Linked DNA regions of Homo sapiens. The protein of the gene in region 2 interacts with the protein of the main gene of each other region in a biochemical or structural test. Each region holds a gene or a part of one and is shown on either strand. Other genes may lie near its edges.

What was found.
Region 1: the proteins of CLNS1A (region 2) and WDR77 form a complex in vitro, tested with the Homo sapiens proteins (one study listed by BioGRID).
Region 3: the proteins of CLNS1A (region 2) and PRMT5 form a complex in vitro, tested with the Homo sapiens proteins (5 studies listed by BioGRID and IntAct, with this or other methods).

The regions. Positions count from the first base shown.
Region 1 is NC_000001.11:111,439,390-111,446,256, forward strand, and holds the end of WDR77 (methylosome protein WDR77), read right to left. Parts: intron 4,736-6,867; coding exon 4,665-4,735; intron 4,533-4,664; coding exon 4,478-4,532; intron 4,006-4,477; coding exon 3,934-4,005; intron 3,373-3,933; coding exon 3,264-3,372; intron 2,741-3,263; coding exon of another isoform or gene 2,705-2,740; coding exon 2,636-2,704; intron 2,001-2,635; coding exon 1,841-2,000; 3' UTR 501-1,840; downstream 1-500. UniProt on the Homo sapiens protein: Non-catalytic component of the methylosome complex, composed of PRMT5, WDR77 and CLNS1A, which modifies specific arginines to dimethylarginines in several spliceosomal Sm proteins and histones.
Region 2 is NC_000011.10:77,613,514-77,621,273, reverse strand, and holds the end of CLNS1A (methylosome subunit pICln), read left to right. Parts: intron 1-1,578; coding exon 1,579-1,646; 3' UTR 1,647-1,668; intron 1,669-2,586; exon of another isoform or gene 2,587-2,734; intron 2,735-4,578; 3' UTR 4,579-6,744; downstream 6,745-7,760. UniProt on the Homo sapiens protein: Involved in both the assembly of spliceosomal snRNPs and the methylation of Sm proteins.
Region 3 is NC_000014.9:22,920,029-22,926,376, reverse strand, and holds the end of PRMT5 (protein arginine N-methyltransferase 5), read left to right. Parts: intron 1-80; coding exon 81-244; intron 245-1,336; coding exon 1,337-1,498; intron 1,499-1,667; coding exon 1,668-1,745; intron 1,746-1,839; coding exon 1,840-1,898; intron 1,899-1,935; exon of another isoform or gene 1,936-1,984; coding exon 1,985-2,107; intron 2,108-2,193; coding exon 2,194-2,369; intron 2,370-2,969; exon of another isoform or gene 2,970-3,216; coding exon 3,217-3,326; exon of another isoform or gene 3,327-3,408; intron 3,409-3,541; coding exon 3,542-3,635; intron 3,636-3,817; coding exon 3,818-3,934; intron 3,935-4,136; coding exon 4,137-4,201; intron 4,202-5,256; exon of another isoform or gene 5,257-5,320; coding exon 5,321-5,473; 3' UTR 5,474-5,848; downstream 5,849-6,348. UniProt on the Homo sapiens protein: Arginine methyltransferase that can both catalyze the formation of omega-N monomethylarginine (MMA) and symmetrical dimethylarginine (sDMA), with a preference for the formation of MMA.

The DNA.
Region 1 (6,867 bases), on a different chromosome or scaffold from region 2:
TGAAACCCTGTCTCTACTAAACACACAAAAATTAGCCTGTAATCCCAGCTACTCAAGAGGCTGAGACAGGAGAATTGCTTGAACCCAGGAGGCGAAGGTTGCAGTGAGCCAAGATCATGCCACTGCACACTAGCCTGGGCAGCAAGAGTGAAACTCCATCTCAACAAAAGAAAAAAAAAACCTATGCTTCCCTTCCATATTGTAACCACCTTGACACATTTCCTTCCTTATCACACATTTCCACACATTTGCTTCCTTATCTCTTTCACTGAGTTTTTTCTCCATCATTCTTAAGTCCAGGAAGAAAAGGGCTATGCAAATTCCTACTCACCTCAAGCTCCCCCACCCCTTACTTTCTCTAAGTGTCCACAAAATTAAAGTTTTATCTTCGAGAGGCAGAACTTAAGTGATTGTACCTACCCATTCTATTTCCTCCCACATTATAAAAATGATGCAAGACTTTATTCCTACTCCACATCAACGCCAGAGGATCACACAACTACAAATTCCCATGTTTTACTCAAGGGTAATCATGTCAAGGGTGAAGCATGGAAGCTTTACTGAGAAATATTTTGCCCATATTCCTTCAGACTTTCCCAGTTTCATAATGTGATTTTTACCTAAATTGAACCTGCAAAGCTCAAAAGTACATAATTGATTATATTTACTTTCAATATAATCAGTAATTGATCCATGACTCCTAACTGGCAATATCCACTCCACCAACCCAAGAATAAATATTTACCTTAAGTTCTAACTAGCTACTTTGGGAAGCTGGGGAAGCACAGGAAAAATAATGGGCTACAAGACCAACACCATGATGACTCACATAAGTGAAATATATCTAACTACACATAACACACATGCTTCAAAAAAGACAGGCCAACAATGCCTAAACTCTTTATTTCACCAACCAGTATTTCTGATTTTCTTCTTGATACTGGATTTTAAAACCTTAGAAGTCTATAAATACTGCATTCAGACTTTCCACATCAAGAGAAAGGGGACCAGGGCAGAAGATGTCAGGCCCCATGCTGTTTTGGGGTGGGAAAAGTGGCAAAGAATTCTCAACAGCCTGTGTCAGTTTTCTAACTTAATTGAAACACCTTTAAGCTCTCCTTCATCCCCAAACTTTCCCCTATGGTGTCTATGATAGAAAAACACTTCTCTCTCATATATGTCCCATCACTAGGGAGCCAGGGGGAAGGGAGTGGGCATTACACAGGCAAGCCAAACTTTTTATTCAGCCAGAAAATGGATTTCTGATTCAGTTTAATGGTAAGGAGTTGTGTAAAACCGTACCAAGTCCTGCTTCTTCCTCAGAGTGAGCTGGGCTGCATTTTTGTGACTGGAAGCATTTCTCATAATGGTGAATTAAGCACTATAAAAAAATAAAGTCAATCCCATCTCTATGAGTAGCATAAGAGCTGCTTCCAAGAACCCAGGGATGCCCACATCCCATAACCCACCCAGACACGGCCAATTCCTCATAGACAGCTACATAAAACCCTTTCGTCAACTTGTTTTGGGGGGTGAGAGAGAGGCAGTGCTTAGGGAAGATGTAGGATGGATTTTTTTTATTCCTGCCACTACCAAAAACTATAAATCTACACACACACTCACACGCACATACATGTCCATTTTTAAGAAAGCTTTTCCTCCCTGTGACTACAGGAACCCAGAATCCAGCCTCCCTCAGGCTGAGAGACGATGCCTATTAACGGCACAGATCTAGCATATCAACATACTATAGAAGGCTCCTGTGTTGTCTCACAAGCTGAGAGGGCAGGGCAAAGAAGTGGACACTCATGGGGGACTTGCTTTTTGTCTTAAATCCAATCTACTCAGTAACACTTGCAGGTCCAGGGGCTGGGAGAGGTTCTGTGGGCACAACGTGGTGGACGACCTGATGGTCCCAGCCCACTGTGGTAAGCAGGGAGTGATTGAGCGGGGACCAAGTCGCATCTCTCACAAAGTCTCTGTGGGCTTGGCTTCTAAACCTAGAAGAAAGAAAAAAAGTCGGGGCAGAGTAGAGACAAGAAAAGCAGACCTGGAGAAAAAAAGAGAACCCAACACATCTGGGGCACATTTTTTGGGTGTGTTACACACATTTCACCAACTGTATGGCCTCATCGCCAGGATAGCAGTGTAGCTATCCACAGTGGATGTCATCAGTCATCCAATCCAGTCTTCTATTTTCATAGATGAAGAAATGCTGGATAGAACAAGACAGTGATGAGGGGCAGTAACAGGCAGCAAATCACGGCAAGGAGGGAAGTACAATTCAGGTCTTCCAGGTGCTGCCTTTTACCCTGTAGCAGGCTGCATTTCATACGCAGTTCTTTATGTGAGAGGGTAGACTGCCGCCCCCTTGTGGGAGAGCGCTGGAGGGCTAGACTTAAAAATTTCACCTACCACCCCCCTCTACCAAGGACACGGCTTGTCCTTGGGGTTGTGAATGTGCCCCAGGAATGGACAGGGTCAACAGCCAGCCTGCTTCCATTACCAAGTCCCTTCGGATACAGATGGAGAATCTGTTCTCCAAAAGCACAACACAGTTTTCTGAAGAGGAAAATGACTCGCCCACCCACTGCTCCCCTTCCCTGATTCCCAAAGGATTCCACTTCACACTTACAACTCAGAAAGGCTTGAGTCCAGCACAGCAAGTGAGCAGTCTTCACTGAGAGAGGCCAGGAAGGGAACACTATCAGATGGAGGAGAGGGTTGTGAAAGGTCCAGCCTGGATCCCAAGACAAAACCTTAACTGGGCCGGCCCTGCCGCCACTGTAAAGTGACCCAGGAGAGGCAGCCTGATTCCCACTTTTGGCTAATCTGGCTACTACAAGTCCACACTAAAAGTTTCAAGTAAAGATGAGGGAAATGAAGCAAAGTTAGGGTTGACAACCATCCTGGCAACTAACCACCCCATCTGGTCCCTCTCTATAGCTTCAGCAATAACCCAGAAACACAGGCTTTTCCAATCTCACAGTCCTAGAAGCCCACAACATTAACCATTTTGGGTGTTGGGCAGGAATGAAATCACATTTTAGCCATTTCAGACAGAAACCATCTAATCTGAAAAATCCTTTGACTCCCAAAGGATTCTACTTCACACTTAAGAGATCTTCGATGTTCCGAAACCTCAGCTAGAACACTGTCTGCTTTAAGGAACTACTTCATCAGCTAATGCTTTGAAAACATACACACACACCCTCACGGTTCCCATTTATACCCATCAGGCCCCTGATGACAAAGAACAGTACCTGTGTGGGGAGAACACCAGCCCAGTGACACACTGGGAGTGTACAGCTGAGCTCAGGACACAGCTTGTACTCTTGGTGTCCACAAGGGAGACTGTCCCATTCTCATCACCTGTAGAAGAGAAGGAACATGTCATAGTGATTAAGAGCATGGACTTTTGTGCCAAAGACTTGAATCCTAGTTCCTCGAGCTTGTAAAAGTTAACCATTCTGAGCATCAGTTTTCTCTTTTGCAAAGTAGGAATAATAAGTCACTGGATCATTGTGAAAATTAAGTTAATGAACGAAGCAGTTATTATTTTAACCACAAACTATGTCACCATATACACAGCCTCATGACCACGATAGCGCTACACCTACCCACAGTAGGACAGAATTCGCTATATAGCAATCCACTTGCTTTGTGGATCACTGACTTATAGCCATGCCCAGAATACAGAAGCTGGATCAATCAATCAAAAATCAAATCCACTGGGAAAATAATCATGTTCTCCAAAACTACACTAAAACTACGTTGGCATCACCCCACCTCCCCACCCTCAATTCATAATTCATCTAGTGTCCATGAGGGCTAAGACTGAGCAACAAGGGCCTTGTGTGTTGTGGAGTCAGCTCTTTCTTTTTCCTCCTCCCCTTTCCCAGAGTCAATATGAAGTCTGACACGCTGCCTTACCAAAGACAAAGACTTCACTTTGCTGAGGATGCCAAGCCAGCGAGGTAGGAAGGTAGCCAGGCGCACTGCAGCCTGCAAAGGAGAGACGAGGGTCTGGACCAAAACTCAGAGTACAGAAGAAGCAGTTTCTCAAATGATATCACTCTAAATCCTGGGAGCACCTTTATTTGATTTCCCAAACCCTGCTAAGGCAGCAGTGTCCTCATCCTTGAGCCTCATAACCATTTATCCCAGCAGCCTCCTGCCCTTTCTGGACACGAGTCACAGGCAAGTTTCAGGCACGAATCATGACGATAACAATTCTGGCCCCTTTGTCCTACCATCTAATAAAGTAAATCACCCACCCAGGAACTGGCCCTTCCTCTTGGTATTCATTGCACAGAATGGGGTTAGCAGAGCCTCACTGGAAAAGAAGGAGATTATGTCACTCATGTCACAGTAACTACACTGGGCATCTAGCAACTATGCTTTGACACTGGCCAAAGACAGTCTCTTCTATCAGGGTTCCAAGTACTATTCTCCCACCAATGAATCTCAGACTCACCAATCTGTGATGCTGGCTTGGGACAGCGGGTATCCCAGAGTAAAATTCTATTGTCCTAGAGGAAGGTGGAACAGAAAAAGGATTTCATAATCCAAAGGAGCAGTTGCAGGCCAGAAAGTCTCCCCACTAGAGACTTTGGCCTATGGATGGCTGGAGTGTGTTTAGGGAAGAAGGAGCTATCTCTTACCTCGCTGCATGAAAGAAACACAGAGTCCTTGTGAGGAGAGGCAGCAACACAAGTGACCTGAGCAGCATGAGCTATAAAGGAGAGAGAAAGAGAAATATGATAGAAAACAAGCTGAAGCATTACTAGAGGGCCAGCCCAGGAATAATCAAGGGGCAGGAGGGAGGGAGGGCTGGTCTCATGATGCAATTTAACAAATTTTGTGGGAGATTATGGATTAGACAAAAGCTAAGAGGAGAAGTTTATAGACTTATAAAACCTAAAAAGCCTTGTAAAAAAAAAACGTATTAGTGAAGATAATGAATGAGAAATTAGGGGCTTAGTAAGAATAACAAAGGAATTTCCAGTTTAGGCATCCTAGACGTGAGGGCTAAATAATTCTAGAATAGCAGTCTTCATACTGGAGTACACACACCTCCAAGTAGTATACAAAAACTTTTGAGGGAGTTCTGGGCGCTAATAGTATTAAGAGAGCCAATTTCTCTAATGTTCTCTTTCTTAAAATTGAACTGCCTCTGTTTTCAATCACTCTTCTCCCACTTCATAGAAAGAACACATACCTGTCATTCATCCCAGATCTTTCCACGCTACAATGCTCAGGGGTATAAAAATATAAGGGTTCTAAACTAAGGGACAAAAGGGGCTTTTCCATAAGAACCAAAGAGCAAAAAGAAAGAGCATCTAGGTAAAATTCAATGAAGGGGGCTGATCTTGTTTCAGTCACACCACAAACACAAGTATGGCTCTGTGACTTAACTCTGTTTCTGTCTAATAATGAGAACTAAAAAATATGATAGATCATTGTGATAAGGACATATTCAACAACTTTATCTGAATTTAAAAACAAAGTCAGACTTTTTCTGACAGAAAATTTAGTCTATCTTGGTCCACTGGCTTTACAATGCAGACTGGCTTTTGCCAGTTAGGCTGTTTGGTAGACATTCATGCAAACTAAGTAGCGTTAACCTGCGAATCTAAAATTTTGACAAATATATGCTTGAAATAAGCACACAATAAATTATATGCCAGAAATTACCTTCTCTGCAACTACTTAAATAAGCATTTTTAGGTATCAGTTTAAAAATGTATGAGGGGGCACAGATTTTCAAAACTGTTTTAGGAGGTCTACATGTAAAAAACTTTAAAGTCACTGCTACATGTTAATTAGAAGCTGTGGAAACCTTTTCTACAGTCATTTTACCAGACTTTCCCAGGTAGTCTGAATGTGGCCCTTCCCTGAGGCAGAAGGATGGAATTAAACCAGTTTCCATAGTTCTTTCCTAGCCCTAGAATTCATAGAAAGCCAACAGGATAAGAAGTAAGAAAAGGAATTTATTGCTCACTTGAAAAAAGCAAAGCTCTGGGACAAGCACCATGGTGGTGTACAAAAGATGAATACATGGTTCCTCTACCCTCAAAGGTTTTGGGGCAGGGTGCAGTGGCTCATGCCTGTATCTCTCAGCACTTTGGGAGGCCAAGGCAGGAGACCACTTGAGCCCAGGAATTTGAGACCAGCCTGGGCAACATAGCAAGACTCTGTCTCTACAAAAAATAGAAAAATAATAAAGGATTTGGAATTCAGCAGGGGGAATAAGACACAAACACAAAGAACTAACAAAAAGGCTGCATGGCAGAAATGCTGAAAAAGAGTTAGCATTAACCAGGAAAGCACATCATATGTCTAAGAAATAAAAAGCAAATATAATAGACATAGAACATTGACTTTTTTTTTTTCCCTGAGACAGTTTCACTCTGTTGCCCAGGCTGGAGTGCAGTGGCGTGATCTCGACTCACTGCAACCTCCGCCTCCAGGGTTCAAGCACTTCTCGGGCCTCAGCCTCCCAAGTAGCTGGGATTACAGATGTGCACCACTACGCCTGGCTAATTTTTGTACTTTTTGGTAGAGTCAAGGTTTCGGCATGTTGGCCAGACTAGTCTCTGACTCCTAGACTTCATATGATCCACCCGCCTCAGCCTCCCAAAGTGCTGGGATTACAGGCGTTAAGCCACTGCGCACAGCTGGGCATTCAACATTATTGTAAAACTATTTCCAAGTGACCCTGAGGGTCCAGGATACTGGACCTTGGATATGAGTCAGTGATTTCTCTGGCCTATAACTTAGTCATGTACTTTGAAGTTAGAAATGGCAGGGAAAGGCACTTAGCCATTGAGAGAACCACAGTGATCCCCCAGCATCTAAACCTTG
Region 2 (7,760 bases):
TCGTCCAGGCCGGAGTACAATAACGTGACCTCGGCTTACTGCAACCTCTGCCTCCCAGGTTCAAGTGATTCTCCCACCTCAGCCTCCTGAGTAGCAGGGATTACCCACTACTATCGTGCCCAGCTAATTTTTGTATTTTTGTAGAGACGGGGTTTCACCATGTTGGCCAGGCTGGTCTCGAACTCCTGACCTCAGGTGATCCGCCCGCCTCAGCCTCCCAAAGTATTGGGATTACAGGCGTGAGCCACTGCACCCGGCCATGATTCTGTCTTATTTATTTATTTATTTATTTAAGACGGAGTCTCACTCTGTTGCCCAGGCTGGAGTGCAGTGGCATGATCTTGGCTTACTTCAACCTCCACCTCCTGGGTTTAAGAGATTCTTCTGCCTCAGCCTCCTGAGTAGTTGGGATTACAGGCATGTGCCACCATGCCTGGCTAATTTTTGTATTTTTAGTAGAGGCGGGGTTTCACCATGTTGGCCAGGCTGGTCTCTAACTCCTGACCTCAGGTGATCTGCCTGCCTTGGCCTCCACCTTCCTGGTTCAAGCCATTCTCCTGCCTCAGCCTCCCGAGTAGCTGGGATTATAAGCGCCTGCCACCATGCCCGGGTAATTTTTTTGTATTTTTGTTAGAGATTTCGCCATGGGGTTTTGCCATGTTGGCCAGGCTGGTCTCAAACTCCTGACCTCAGGTGATCCACCCACCTTGGCCTCCCAAAGTGCTGGGATTACAGGCGTGAGCCACTGTGCCTGGCCAAGACAACTCTTTCCGTGGGGCTTGTATTAGTCTGTTTTCACACTGCTGATAAAGACATACTCAAGACTGGGCAATTAGCAAAAGAAAGAGGTTTCATTGGACTTACAGTTCCATATGGCTGGGGAAACCTCACAATCGTGGTGGAAGACGAGGAGCAAATCACATCTTACATGGAAGGCAGCAAGCAAAAAGAGCTTTTGCAGGAAAACTCCCCCTTATATAACCATCAGATCTAGTGAAACTTACTCATTATTATGAGAACAGCACGGGAAAGACCTGCCCCCATAATTCAGTTACCTCCCACCAGATCCCTCCCACAACACGTGGGAATTCAAGATGAAATTTGGGTAGGGACACAGCCAAACCATATCAGGGCTCTTGTTTTTTTTCTCTTGTTCCCTCCCCACCTTTTATTTAATGAGATGACAAAAACAGGGAAATAAGCAAAAAGCTTGCTGTACTGATTTTTGTCTTTTCACTTTGTGAGGATAGGGCTGTATACCTTAAAAAGCCTAACAGTAAATACTTAGATCTGTAAAGGGTGAACAATTGATACTGCATTTGAAAGTTCCTACATAGAGTTATTTTAGTATTGAGGGTGAGAATTTACACAGTTAGTGTCGCAGACTGATTTTGATGTGGCCTAAATCCCCAGGTAGCATTTTCTTTCTCAGTTTGTCCCTTCAGACTTTTCCAAAAAGAGGAAAAAGCAATTCTTACCAGCAGAGGGCACTAGCTTCCTTCTGGTAGAAGTTATAAGTTGAATCTACCTGTCTGAAGTGTTCATAGGGATTGCTCAGTAATTAATTTTTTTGTTTAGATGGGATGGAGGTGGATACCACACCAACAGTTGCTGGACAGTTTGAGGATGCAGATGTTGATCACTGAAAATGATTTATGCAAGTTTAAGGTGAGTAGTTCATTTTCTCCCTTGTCGCTGATCATGAAAATCATATGAAATGATTACTTTCTACTTTTTAAAATTCTTTCTTGAGACAGGGTCTTACTCTGTCACCCAGGCTAGAGTGCAGTGGCATGATCCTAGCTCACTACAGCCTTGAACTCAAGCAATCCACCTGCCTCACCCTCCCAAATAGCTGGGACTATAGGCACATGCTTACCACACCCAGCTTATTTTAAAATTTTACGTAGAGACAAGGTCTCACATGTTGCCCAGGCTGGTCTCTAACTCCTGGCCTCAAATGATTCTCCCTCCTCGGCATCCGAAAGTACTGGGATTACAGCTGTGAGCCACTGTATCTGGCCTATTTCTTTTTCCTTCTTTAAAAAAATTTTTCTTCTTTTAAACCTCAGATTGTTCCTGACAATTTATTTGCTACTCCATTATTCTGAGAAATATATTGTCCTTTGCCAGCCTAAGTATTTCAACTATATGTTAGATAATAACTGAAGGTCATGTTCATATCATACAGAGCTAGAACCAGTAATTGTAGTAGTCCTTTATAAGCTGTTGTTAAATTGTTGTCCCTGTCTCCCCACTACAACTTCCTCCTACCTTATAGCATTGTTTTCTTGAATACTGGCTATCCTCCAGTCTTTGAGATGCTCTCGCTAGCCTCCTTTTATTTTACTAAAGCATATAGTAATAGCATGGTAAGATTTATATGTTTTGACTTGACTCTGCTACCACTGTCAGTCATCCAGTTAAGTTATAAGATCCTTTGTTATTCCCTGCAATGATAAATATTTCAGAATTCCTTCTCTTTTCTTCTGATACAGATTTTAGTTCTGAACCTAGTTCTGTAATCATTGGCTTTTCTCCAGTTACAAGTTTTAATTCCTTTACCCCTGTTCTATTTCATTTCAGAAACCAGCCTTTTAAAGTTCCAGTTAGCTTCCAAGTTACTGCTATTGTGAAAACTGTATAACATTGCTTCTTATACTGACCATGAATTGTGATACTGGACCTGTGCTTTCTTCTCACATCCTGCCAGTGGAACTATCAGAAAATAACCTCTTAGAGTTCTATGATTTATATTTTCCCTTAAATACTTAATTTTAATTTCCACATTTACTTTTGTCAGTGGTAGCCATACAGTTTAAAATTAGCAATGTCTTCTCTGTTAAAATCATGTGTTCACATCACTGGAGCTCTGTTAACTTTGATTTTTAGCTCTCACAGTTCCAATTGTCAGTAACTTCACTGTTCTACTTCATGGGAAATCCTTTGATATCAACTTCAGTATTCTTTCCTTATTTCTCATCACATTATAGCATATTAATTTTTTCAGTTCAGTGATACTTGTTTTAGTAACTGTTTTATTGCAATTAGAAAACAGATTTTTGGGTCTTTGGGCTTTCACATATTTCTTTTGAAGAATAGACTATACAGAGAACATCAGCCACTCTATTATTAATCAGAATCATGAGAAACTCATTTGGTATGTCACTAACAGTTAAACAAATGGGATGTTACTGCAGTCCTTGGCAAGAATTCTTAGGATTCTTTTTAATGGTGAAATAGCCACAAACTTTTTAATGAGCTTTGTTTTCTGTTAATTTTATCCTAGAGCTCAGAGGCAGAGAATTATTTTATTCATAACGGTTTTTTTTCTTTTCTTTTTTTTTTTTCTTTTTGAGATGGAATCTCGCTCTGTCGCCCAAGCTGGAGTGCAGTGGTGTGATCTTGGCTCACTGCAACCTCTGTCTCCTGGGTTCAAGCGATTCTCCTGCTTCAGTCTCCCAAGTAGCTGGAACTACAGACGCGCGCCACCACGCCTGGCTAATTTTTGTATTTTTAGTAGAGAGAGGGTTTCACCATGTTGGCCAGGATGGTCTTGATCTTTTGACCTCGTGATCCGCCTGCCTCGGCCTCTCAAAGTGCTGGGATTACAGGCATGAGCCACTGCACCCTGTTTATAATGTATAAACATTATGTATAATGTTTATACATATTCTTCATCTGGATAATTGATCTGAATTCCGAACAATGTCTGTACATTTTTTTTTTTTTGACACGGGAGTCTCGCTCTGTTGCCTAGGCTGGTGTGCAGTGGCGCAACTTGGTTCATTGCAACCTCTGCCTCCCGGGTTCAAGCAATTCTCCTGCCTCAGCCTCCTGAATAGCTGGGATTACAGGTGCCCACCACCACACCCGGCTAATTTTTTTTTTTTTTTTTTTTTTTTTGAGATGGAGTTTCGCTCTTGTTGCCCAGGCTGGAGTGCAATGGTGCAATCGGCTCACCGAATCCTCCGCCCCCCCGGGTTCAAGTGATTCTCCTGCCTCATCCTCCCGAGTAGCTGGGATTACAGGCATGTGCCACCACGCCTGGCTAATTTTGTAATTTTAGTAGAGACAGTGTTTCTCCATGTTTGGTAAGGCTGGTCTTGAACTTCTGACCTCAGGTTATCCGCCTGCCTTGGCCTCCCAAAGTGCTGGGATTACAGGTGTGAGCCACCACACCTGGCTGTGTAAATTTTTAATCATTTAAAATTGTACATGCTTTAAAAGAATGAATAAGGAATAAATAATTAAGAGTAGTTTATGCAACTGTTAATAATTTCAGGATAATGGAACTAGGACTTCTCAGTGCATGAGGTGGGGTGGAGACGGCACGTTAATCGTGGAATCACAACTCTGCCACATACTTGTGTACACCTTTGGACAAGGCATATAACTTATTTAATCCTCACTTCCCCCATCTGTAAAATGGGGAGGATAATACCTACCTTGCAGGGTTGTTGCAGAGGCTAAGATAAAATGTACCTAAGTCCTCTGGCACTCGTGACTAGGCATTCAATAAGTAGTAGCTATTATTATTATCACTACTGTAAACACTGTAAACCTTTTGTTTTTCAGATTCTGCTCCTAAGTGTAGGAGAGAACTTGGTGCCTCTTCCACTCTGGAGTGAAGTTAATGAAAGTCTTTTTCCTTTTCCAAAACCCAACCTGAACCAGTTCTTTCTTGAGACAGACTATACTGAGACAACAAGTTGTCACCAGCAGAAGATAGATAATATGACCTTTATTAACTTGATGAATTAACTTAACCAAGAGGGTATTTGTAGTTTACTATTTACCCTAAAACTTTCTGTGTCTGGGTACCCTCTGAGTAGGCCTATAATTCCTACCTTGACTGTGTGCATCATTTGTAAGCTAGCAGATCTATGTGGTGAAAATGCACAGGAGCTTGGTAGACTGCGGGGGAAAGAGAGAGCTCCTTTCGCCATGTTTTACCAGTCTGCTGTTATAACCTCTTAGGTTGTATCCTTTAATTTCCAGCCTTTTAGGTTAGTTTCTGTAACAGAACAAGTGAGTCTGGGATGAAGTCCTCAAAGTACTTCAAATGGTAATTGTTTTGTTTTTGTAATAGCTTAACAAATAAACCTAGGTTTTCTATATTACTTTGCTCTCATTCTTGACTAAAACCATTAATGAGAAATGTTTTTTAAAAAATAATGCTGGCAAATATGAGAATTTTGTTGGCTTTATTTTTGTTTACTTGTTGAGAAGATGAACATGAAATTAATAAGAAAATATAGTTATAGCTTCTGGCAAGTATTTAGTAAGGCAAAGATTTAACACATTTCAGGGGATTTCTGCCACTTCCTTTTAGATCAGCAGTAATTTCTTATATTTATCAACTCTCAATTTTTAGTTTTCATAGATACCTGGGTATTATAAGGCTGATTTGTAATTACTGATTTATACTTGGACTTTTGAAATCATTATGTGTCCTTAAAAATAAGGTTATACAAGCTAACCTTCTTAACAGGATCACATGGCTAATTAGTGACTAAACTGATGTTTGGTACCACTCAGCCCAGTGTTCATTTCAGCACTGTCACTTGGTTTCCCTTATCTTGCAAGGTAGACTGAAAAAAAACGAATTTTCCTTTTTCTAACCAGACTCTCAGAATTTCTGAGTCTGTTAACAATAGGCAAGTAAAACAGCCACTTGAAATGGAAACTAAAATTTACTGAGACCTCTGTACTAGCCACTGTCCTGAGTTCTTTATTATGTATTATAATATTCTTAATTATCTTATGAGATACGCTTTTATCCCACTTTATAGTTGAGGAAACTGAGTTATAGAGAGAGGTAAAATAACTTGCTTAAGGTCATGTAGATAGTGAATTGTGATTTTTGAGCCTGTGCTTTAAAACATCATACAGCCTTACCACCTACCAGCAGCAGAAAGCATGCACACTCTCCCCACTGCTGCAGGGTTTCAGTGTTAACATTTCAATGGCCAGTACAAGAGCTTCCCCAGTTTCTCTGCTACCCATCTGAGCAACACCCATAATTCTATCCTAGAAGTTTGTCCATTCTTCAGTAATCAGTCAGGACATTCTCACAGGCTAATATTAGAAATTCCATTTGAGTTCCTTTTAAAAGGAACAAATTTATAATTGTGACTTTCCATGAACATAAATTGCTCTGATAGCAAAATGTCGAGAAGATTCAGAGTGTACTTGGTTTCTTGTTGGTGTTGCTGTGGTCAATGCAATATGCAAAAAGGCAGGAGACCAAAGCATGTGGGCACCTCTCTGGGCTTATTTCCTCATTAGACTAAGTGACTTTCAAAGATTGAGCTGTAACATTCACTAGATAGTTAGAACCGTAGCATTGAGAAAATAGAAGCTGAGAAAAAAGAGCAGGTCAGGCTTTTAAAAGATAAAATTTATAATGATCAGCCAGACAATATTTATTGATTTCATTTGAGCCTAATTTTAGGGTTGCTGGAATTGTTTTCTTTGTGTGTTCCTGATGTAGAGACACTTTAAAGGTACATAGACATTTCCCCTCCAAAATGTAAGTCATCTAAATGTTCCTAAAAGCTAGGGTTAATGGTTCTCTGTTCTAGGTTCTTCATTTAAAAAATGTATTCATTAAGATATGGTCCCAGCCGGACGTGGTGGCTCACACCTGTAATCCCAGCACTTTGGGAGGCTCAGGTGGGCAGATCACTTGAGGTCAGGAGTTTGAGACCAGCCTGGCCAATACGGTGAAAACCCATCTCTACTGAAAATACAAAAATTAGCCAGCCATGGTGGTGGGCACCTGTAATCCCAGCTACTCAGGAGGCTGAGGCACAAGAATCACTTGAACCCAGGAGGCAGAGGTTGCAGTGAGCTGAGGCCATAAGCTTGTTTAAATCTTTATAGGGGCTGGGCACGGTGGCTCATGCCTATAATCTCAGCACTTTGGGAGGCTGAGGTGGGTCGATCACCTGAGGTCAGGAGTTCCAGACTAGCCTGGCCAACATGGTCAAACCCTGTCTCTACAAAAATACAAAAAATTAGCTGGGCGTGGTGGTGGGGCACCTCTAATCCCAGCTACTTGGGAGGCTGAGGCAGGAGACTCCCTTGAACCTAGGAGGCAGATGTTGCAGTGAGCTGAGGTCACACCGTTGCATTCCAGCCTGGGCAACAAGAGCAAAACTCCATCTCAAAAATCAAAAAAGGTTATGTGGTTATGTATTTTTGAGGTTCTGTTAGGAGCTTCCTCAATATTGGTAAAGGTGAGAGATTATGTGCAGATGATCATAATATACAGGTTGAGTATTCCTAATCTGAAATCTGAAATTCCCCAAAATCTGAAACTTTTTTGAGTGCTAACATGATGCTCAAAGGAACTGCTCATTGGGGCATTTTGGATTTCAGACTTTTGGATTAGGGATGCTTAACCAGTATAATGCGAATTATTCCAAAATTTTAAAAACATTCCAAAATCTGAAATACATTTGATCCCAATAATTTTGCTTAAGGGATATTCAATCTGTATAGTCCTTTACTTTTAGAAGAAGGCAGGTATGATTACTTACTGCTCAGAAATAATAGATACTTAGAATTTATCTGCAGGATTTCAGATGGGTTCACTATTACATACCTGATTATCATGCACATCCTGTTTTAAAAGTATAGAATGGATGAATCCATATCTGGGACTCATCTTTTGTGACCAATAACTGAATTCTAAGCATTGTCTCTCATGGGGATCCTCACAGAATTGTTGCCATCCCTTTATGAAGGAGCTG
Region 3 (6,348 bases), on a different chromosome or scaffold from region 2:
GTAAACAGATTTTGCGCAAAGGAGCAAGGAAGGGTTTCTTGCCTGGCAGTGGTTGACAGTTTTTCTTTTGCCTCATGTAGCTCTTGAAATTGGGGCTGACCTCCCATCTAATCATGTCATTGATCGCTGGCTTGGGGAGCCCATCAAAGCAGCCATTCTCCCCACTAGCATTTTCCTGACCAATAAGAAGGGATTTCCTGTTCTTTCTAAGATGCACCAGAGGCTCATCTTCCGGCTCCTCAAGGTGAGTGGTAGGAGGGTTCTAAAGGTAGTCCAGCTATACATCTTGCCTTATTTACCTGTGTATGATCGTTTTTTCCTGTGAGGCTGACTCTTTTTCTTTGGTTTCTGGGGAGCAATTTCAGTGAAGTTGGGAATCTTGAGAACAAAAAGGTAAATGCCAGTAGTAGCCCTAGAAACCTTTCAAAACAAACCAAACCTCATGAGAACTTTGCAGAAGGTTTCATTTAGGAAGTTACAGCAAGGATCCATGAGGCTGTTTGGGTGTTGATACTTTCATGGCATAAGAGGGCTTTTTCTTTTTTCTTTTTTTTTTTGAGACAGGGTCTCACTCTGTTACCCAGACTGGAGTGCAGCCATACCATCTCAGCTCACCAGAACCTCTGCCTCCCAGGCTTAAGCGATTCTTCTGCTTTAGCCTCCTGAGTAGCTGGGATTATAGGAATGCACCACTACTGCCCGGCTAATTTTTGTATTTTCAGTAGAGACAGGTTTTATCATGTTGGCCAGGCTGGTCTTGAACGCCTGACCTCAAATGATCCACCCGCCTCGGCCTTCCAAAGTATTGGGATTACAGGCGTGGGCCACCACGCCCGGCCAAGGGGGCTTTTTATAAGTTTACTGAAGCCTCATGCTGCCTTTGTTGGTATTGGGACAGACGCTAGAGAACTGTTGGTCTGGGCCAGGTGCAGTGGCTCGCGCCTGTAATCCCAGGACTTTGGGAGGCTGAGGCGGATGGATCATCTGAGGTCAGGAGTTTGAGACCAGCCTGTCCAACATGGTGAAACCCCGTCTCTACTAAAAATACAAAAATTAGCCAAGCATGGTGGCACGCACCTGTAGTCCCAGCTACTTGGGAGGCTGAGGCAGGAGAATTGCTTGAACCTGGGAGGTGGAGGTTGCAAGTGAGCCAAGATCACGCCATTGCACTCCAGCCTGGGCAATAGAGCGAGACTCCATCTTTTTTTTTAAAAAAAAAAAAAAAGAGAACTGTTGATCTGGGCCTTATTTTACACTAGGGCTCTTTGGCCATATACCATAATATTCCAGAATCTTGGTTTGAGGGCTGTGTCTGATGGTCTGACTTTTCTCACAGTTGGAGGTGCAGTTCATCATCACAGGCACCAACCACCACTCAGAGAAGGAGTTCTGCTCCTACCTCCAATACCTGGAATACTTAAGCCAGAACCGTCCTCCACCTAATGCCTATGAACTCTTTGCCAAGGGCTATGAAGACTATCTGCAGTCCCCGCTTCAGGTGGGTCTGGAGTGCACTTAGAGGAGGAAGGTGGGATGGAAAATGTTTCTTGAGAATATATGCCTCCAAATCTTACTAAAACTCAGAAAGCAGTGGAAAGTTTTTGATATTTTAGTGCATTGTCCTTTGCCAGAAACTGGCTAACTTTGTCCTTTTCCTCATTCATCAGCCACTGATGGACAATCTGGAATCTCAGACATATGAAGTGTTTGAAAAGGACCCCATCAAATACTCTCAGTACCAGCAGGTACTGTGTGGTGCCCAGGGTGAGGAAAGCACAGGGCCAGCATGACCTGGGGAGGATGGGATTACAACCATGGGATATTCTCTCCTCCCTCCAGGCCATCTATAAATGTCTGCTAGACCGAGTACCAGAAGAGGAGAAGGATACCAATGTCCAGTGAGTGCTTTCCCCTCAATCTCAGGGACTTGCATACCTATATCTGTATATGCCAAGTCTGCTTGACTCTTCCCTTTCTTTCTTAGGGTACTGATGGTGCTGGGAGCAGGACGGGGACCCCTGGTGAACGCTTCCCTGCGGGCAGCCAAGCAGGCCGACCGGCGGATAAAGCTGTATGCTGTGGAGAAAAACCCAAATGCCGTGGTGACGTGAGTAGCAACCTGCTTGCTGGGAAGTTAGTCCTCATTGCCAAATTTCCTTAACATCTCTCCTTACCTTATTGTCTCTGTTTCAGGCTAGAGAACTGGCAGTTTGAAGAATGGGGAAGCCAAGTGACCGTAGTCTCATCAGACATGAGGGAATGGGTGGCTCCAGAGAAAGCAGACATCATTGTCAGTGAGCTTCTGGGCTCATTTGCTGACAATGAATTGTCGCCTGAGTGCCTGGATGGAGCCCAGCACTTCCTAAAAGGTGCCCCCAGGTTGGGGTGTAGGTGGAGGGTGATGATGGGTGAGACAGCAACCTGGGAGGAGGGTACAGGGTTTAGGGGAAAGTGGGTTGGACCTGGGTCACATCATATGAGTTTGAGAGCCACTGCTTCACTGCCTCTGTGCCCCTAGCAAATGAAGTCATCTCTCCAAACCTTAGTGTTCATATTTGTAAAATGAAGGGAGTGGGCTGGGCGCGGTGGCTCATGCCTGTAATTGCAGCACTTTGGGAGGCCAAGGCGGGAGGTCAGGAGTTTGAGACCAGCCTGGGCAACATGGCGAAACCCCATCACTACTAAAAATACAAAAATTAGCCAGGCGTGGCGGTGCACGCCTGTAATCCCAGCTACTCGGGAGGCTGAGGCGCGAGAATCACTTGAACCTGGGAGGAGAAGGTTGCAGTGAGCTGAGATTGTGCCACTGCACTCCAGCCTGGGCAACAGAGCGAGACTCCATCTCAAATAAATAAATAAATAAATAAATAAATAAATAAATATGACATATGTACCCTGAGCTTAGCTTTCATCAGGAACTTTTGTGGGACTTTGTGACCCCACAAAAGTTAAGAACCACCAGATTAGACTATCTTGGGTTCTTTCAGTTTTAATCTGTGTGACTCTGTAAATTAACCTAGTAGTGGAATCCTCCATGACAGTAGTTGGAAGCAGGCTGGCTTAGTAATGTGACAACATGCATTTGTCTCTTTCTTCCATGCCCATGCCAACGTTGGTTGGTTTTGACATGGGAGGTTTGATCCTTCTGATCCTTCAGTTAGTACAGACATACCATTTCCCTCCCTCTGGAACTAATTTGACTCTCCTGCTGTGCAGATGATGGTGTGAGCATCCCCGGGGAGTACACTTCCTTTCTGGCTCCCATCTCTTCCTCCAAGCTGTACAATGAGGTCCGAGCCTGTAGGGAGAAGGACCGTGACCCTGAGGTAAAGAACCACTCTCTCTGGAAAGAAGTGGTACTCTTTAGTCCTCTTCTTTTTCTGTATTTGCATCAGCTATTTTCTTCTGCTGGGGATGAAGAGGTGAAGGAGAAGTTAGGGATTGGGGAAGCACTAAAGTAAAACTTTTTTTAATCCTTGGGGAAGTAGTTCTCTCTTGTGTGTCTTCCCCAACACTCTCTCTCTCTTTCTGTCTCTGACAGGCCCAGTTTGAGATGCCTTATGTGGTACGGCTGCACAACTTCCACCAGCTCTCTGCACCCCAGCCCTGTTTCACCTTCAGCCATCCCAACAGAGGTAGGTTCTTTTATGGCTGTCCTCTGACTAGAGGGGTACGGGCTTCTTCCTTCCTCCTGCTTTCTTCCCTTACTGTCCCTAGTCTGCCTTATCTACTCTTCCTTTCCTGGGTCTTGCTCATGCTTTATCAAGTTGTCTAGAGCTTCTGGCCCCTTGTCACCCACATAATTATTTCCTGACAGATCCTATGATTGACAACAACCGCTATTGCACCTTGGAATTTCCTGTGGAGGTGAACACAGTACTACATGGCTTTGCCGGCTACTTTGAGACTGTGCTTTATCAGGACATCACTCTGAGTGAGTGTCTATGGCAGTAGATGGCAGAGTATGAGGGTGTGCTTCCTGGGCAGCTTATATGTACATGTGTCATTTAGATTTATGGGGGGCCCAGTGCTCAATGAATGGAGATCTTTGTGTGATTAGAGAAGAGACCCTCTTCAGCATAGGCAAAAGTCACAGCCATGGAGACCTCTGTTTTTTCATTATTTTGTCCACACAGGTATCCGTCCAGAGACTCACTCTCCTGGGATGTTCTCATGGTTTCCCATCCTCTTCCCTATTAAGGTAGGAACTGCTTTTAAGACTCTCTAGTTAAGCAGTAACCTTTGCCTTTGGTGTTGTGCTTCTTTCCTTCTCCCAGGAAGATAGTTGACTATGACTCATGTTCTCCTGATTTCATATGCTCTTGGATCCCAGTGGTAGGTGTTGGGAGTATTTGGAGTGGCCTTCTGCCTGGCTTTCCCGCATCTACTCTGGCTACTCTTCTGTCTGTTCTCTACTTTGAGCAAGAGTCATCTTTTAAAAACTCAAATTTGATCTTATCTCTCTTGCTGTCTTTTTTTTTTTTTTTTTTTTAAAGAGACGGAGTCTCACTCTGTCGCCCAGGCTGGAGTGCAGTGGCACAATTTCGGCTCACTGCAAGCTCCGCCTCCCGGGTTCATGCCATTCTCCTGCCTCAGCCTCCCTGAGGCTGAGATTACAGGTGCCAGCCACCACACCCGGCTAATTCTTGTATTTTTAGTAGAGACGGGGTTTTACCGTGTTAGCCAGGATGGTCTCGATCTCCTGACCTCATGATCCGCCCACCTCAGCCTCCCAAAGTGCTGGGATTACAGGCGTGAGCCACCGCGCCTGGCCTGATCTTATCTCTCTTTTTTGCTTAAAACTCTTCAATGCCTTCCCATTGTCTTTAGGATAAAAGTCAAAATCTGGGACATTGCTTGTAAGACTTGATGTGATCGAGTGTTTGCTTGCCTTTGCAGCTACTGTCCCCTTGCTTACACTGCTTCAGCCTTATGGACCTTCTTTTTGTTCTAATTGTCTATCTTCTTTCCTACCTCAGGCTTTCATGCCTTTCTCTTGCCTGTAGAGTTCTTTGCTTGTCTCTTCACACAGTTAACCTATCTTCTAGGTCTTCTTTAAACATTTTTATTGTGAGATAAACTTTCTCTGATCTCCTAGACTAGGTTAGTGTTCCCTTTCATAGGTGTTTTTCTGACTCTGTACATGTTCACAGCTCTCACCACACCTTTGATTATTTGTGTTCTGATAGGCTTCAAATAACTTTCATGAGGGTTGGGACAGTCTTGTCATGTTTATCATTTTATCTCCACACCTACCTTAATACATTGCCATGTATAATTCATAGCTTCACCCTGAACCTTCCTGTCTTTCTTCTTACAGCAGCCCATAACGGTACGTGAAGGCCAAACCATCTGTGTGCGTTTCTGGCGATGCAGCAATTCCAAGAAGGTGTGGTATGAGTGGGCTGTGACAGCACCAGTCTGTTCTGCTATTCATAACCCCACAGGCCGCTCATATACCATTGGCCTCTAGCCCTGCGTGCCAAGTGTCCAGAGCCTTGGAAGCAGCTTCAGGTTCTGCTCCTGTAGTACAGAAGGTGCAGTACATCTATGGGCTGTGATTCCCCTTGCCCATCAGAGAGGAGCATTTCAATCTGCTTTCCTGCCTTACATCAAGGTGGGCAAGGGATTATAATTAATTGCAGGGCTCAAGCCACCAATCTATGAAGACCTCAGGCCAGGGGGTGAGGAATTAGTGCTGGATTTGAAGCTACGCACTCAGCCTCAAGAACTCCCTGGAATATCCCTGAGAACATGGGGTTTGAACGGATTTTCAGCCTTTTTCTGTTCTTGTTTTGATGGTTTTGTGTAAGAGGAAATACAAATAAAGTTATAGCCCTTTACTGCACGACCATGCTGCCCCCTGCCACTATTTTCCCACACCTCACTTAGACCCAGGCATGTTCAGATCTGTCCTCTTAGCCTATCCAAGACCCAAAGGGGCCTAGTTGTATTCCCTACTTAGGAAGCTGAGCAATGACTATTGTAGTCCTGGATATAGGCCTTTCTGACCAGCTACAGTGAGCTCTTGTCCATTAGAACCTACAGTTAGGCTTTTCTCTGGGGAGGAGGCATAGAGTTTGCCACCTTGGAAAAAGATGGAATAGTGAGTGAAGCCAGTTTCTCTTCTGTATTCTTGAGCTACTGCACGGGCAACTGGTTACCTCTCCTTTGTTACCTCTTGGGAAGACTGGAATCCATCCAGGAATCTCCAGCAAGAAGCTACCTGTTTTTTTTGAATAAAACCACAGGGTTACAGTTTGAAGTCCTAAGAGATCATCTAGTCCAATTTTCCATTTTACAGAGGGGGAGTTTGAAATGGGTACAATGATGTGATATTAGTATCCA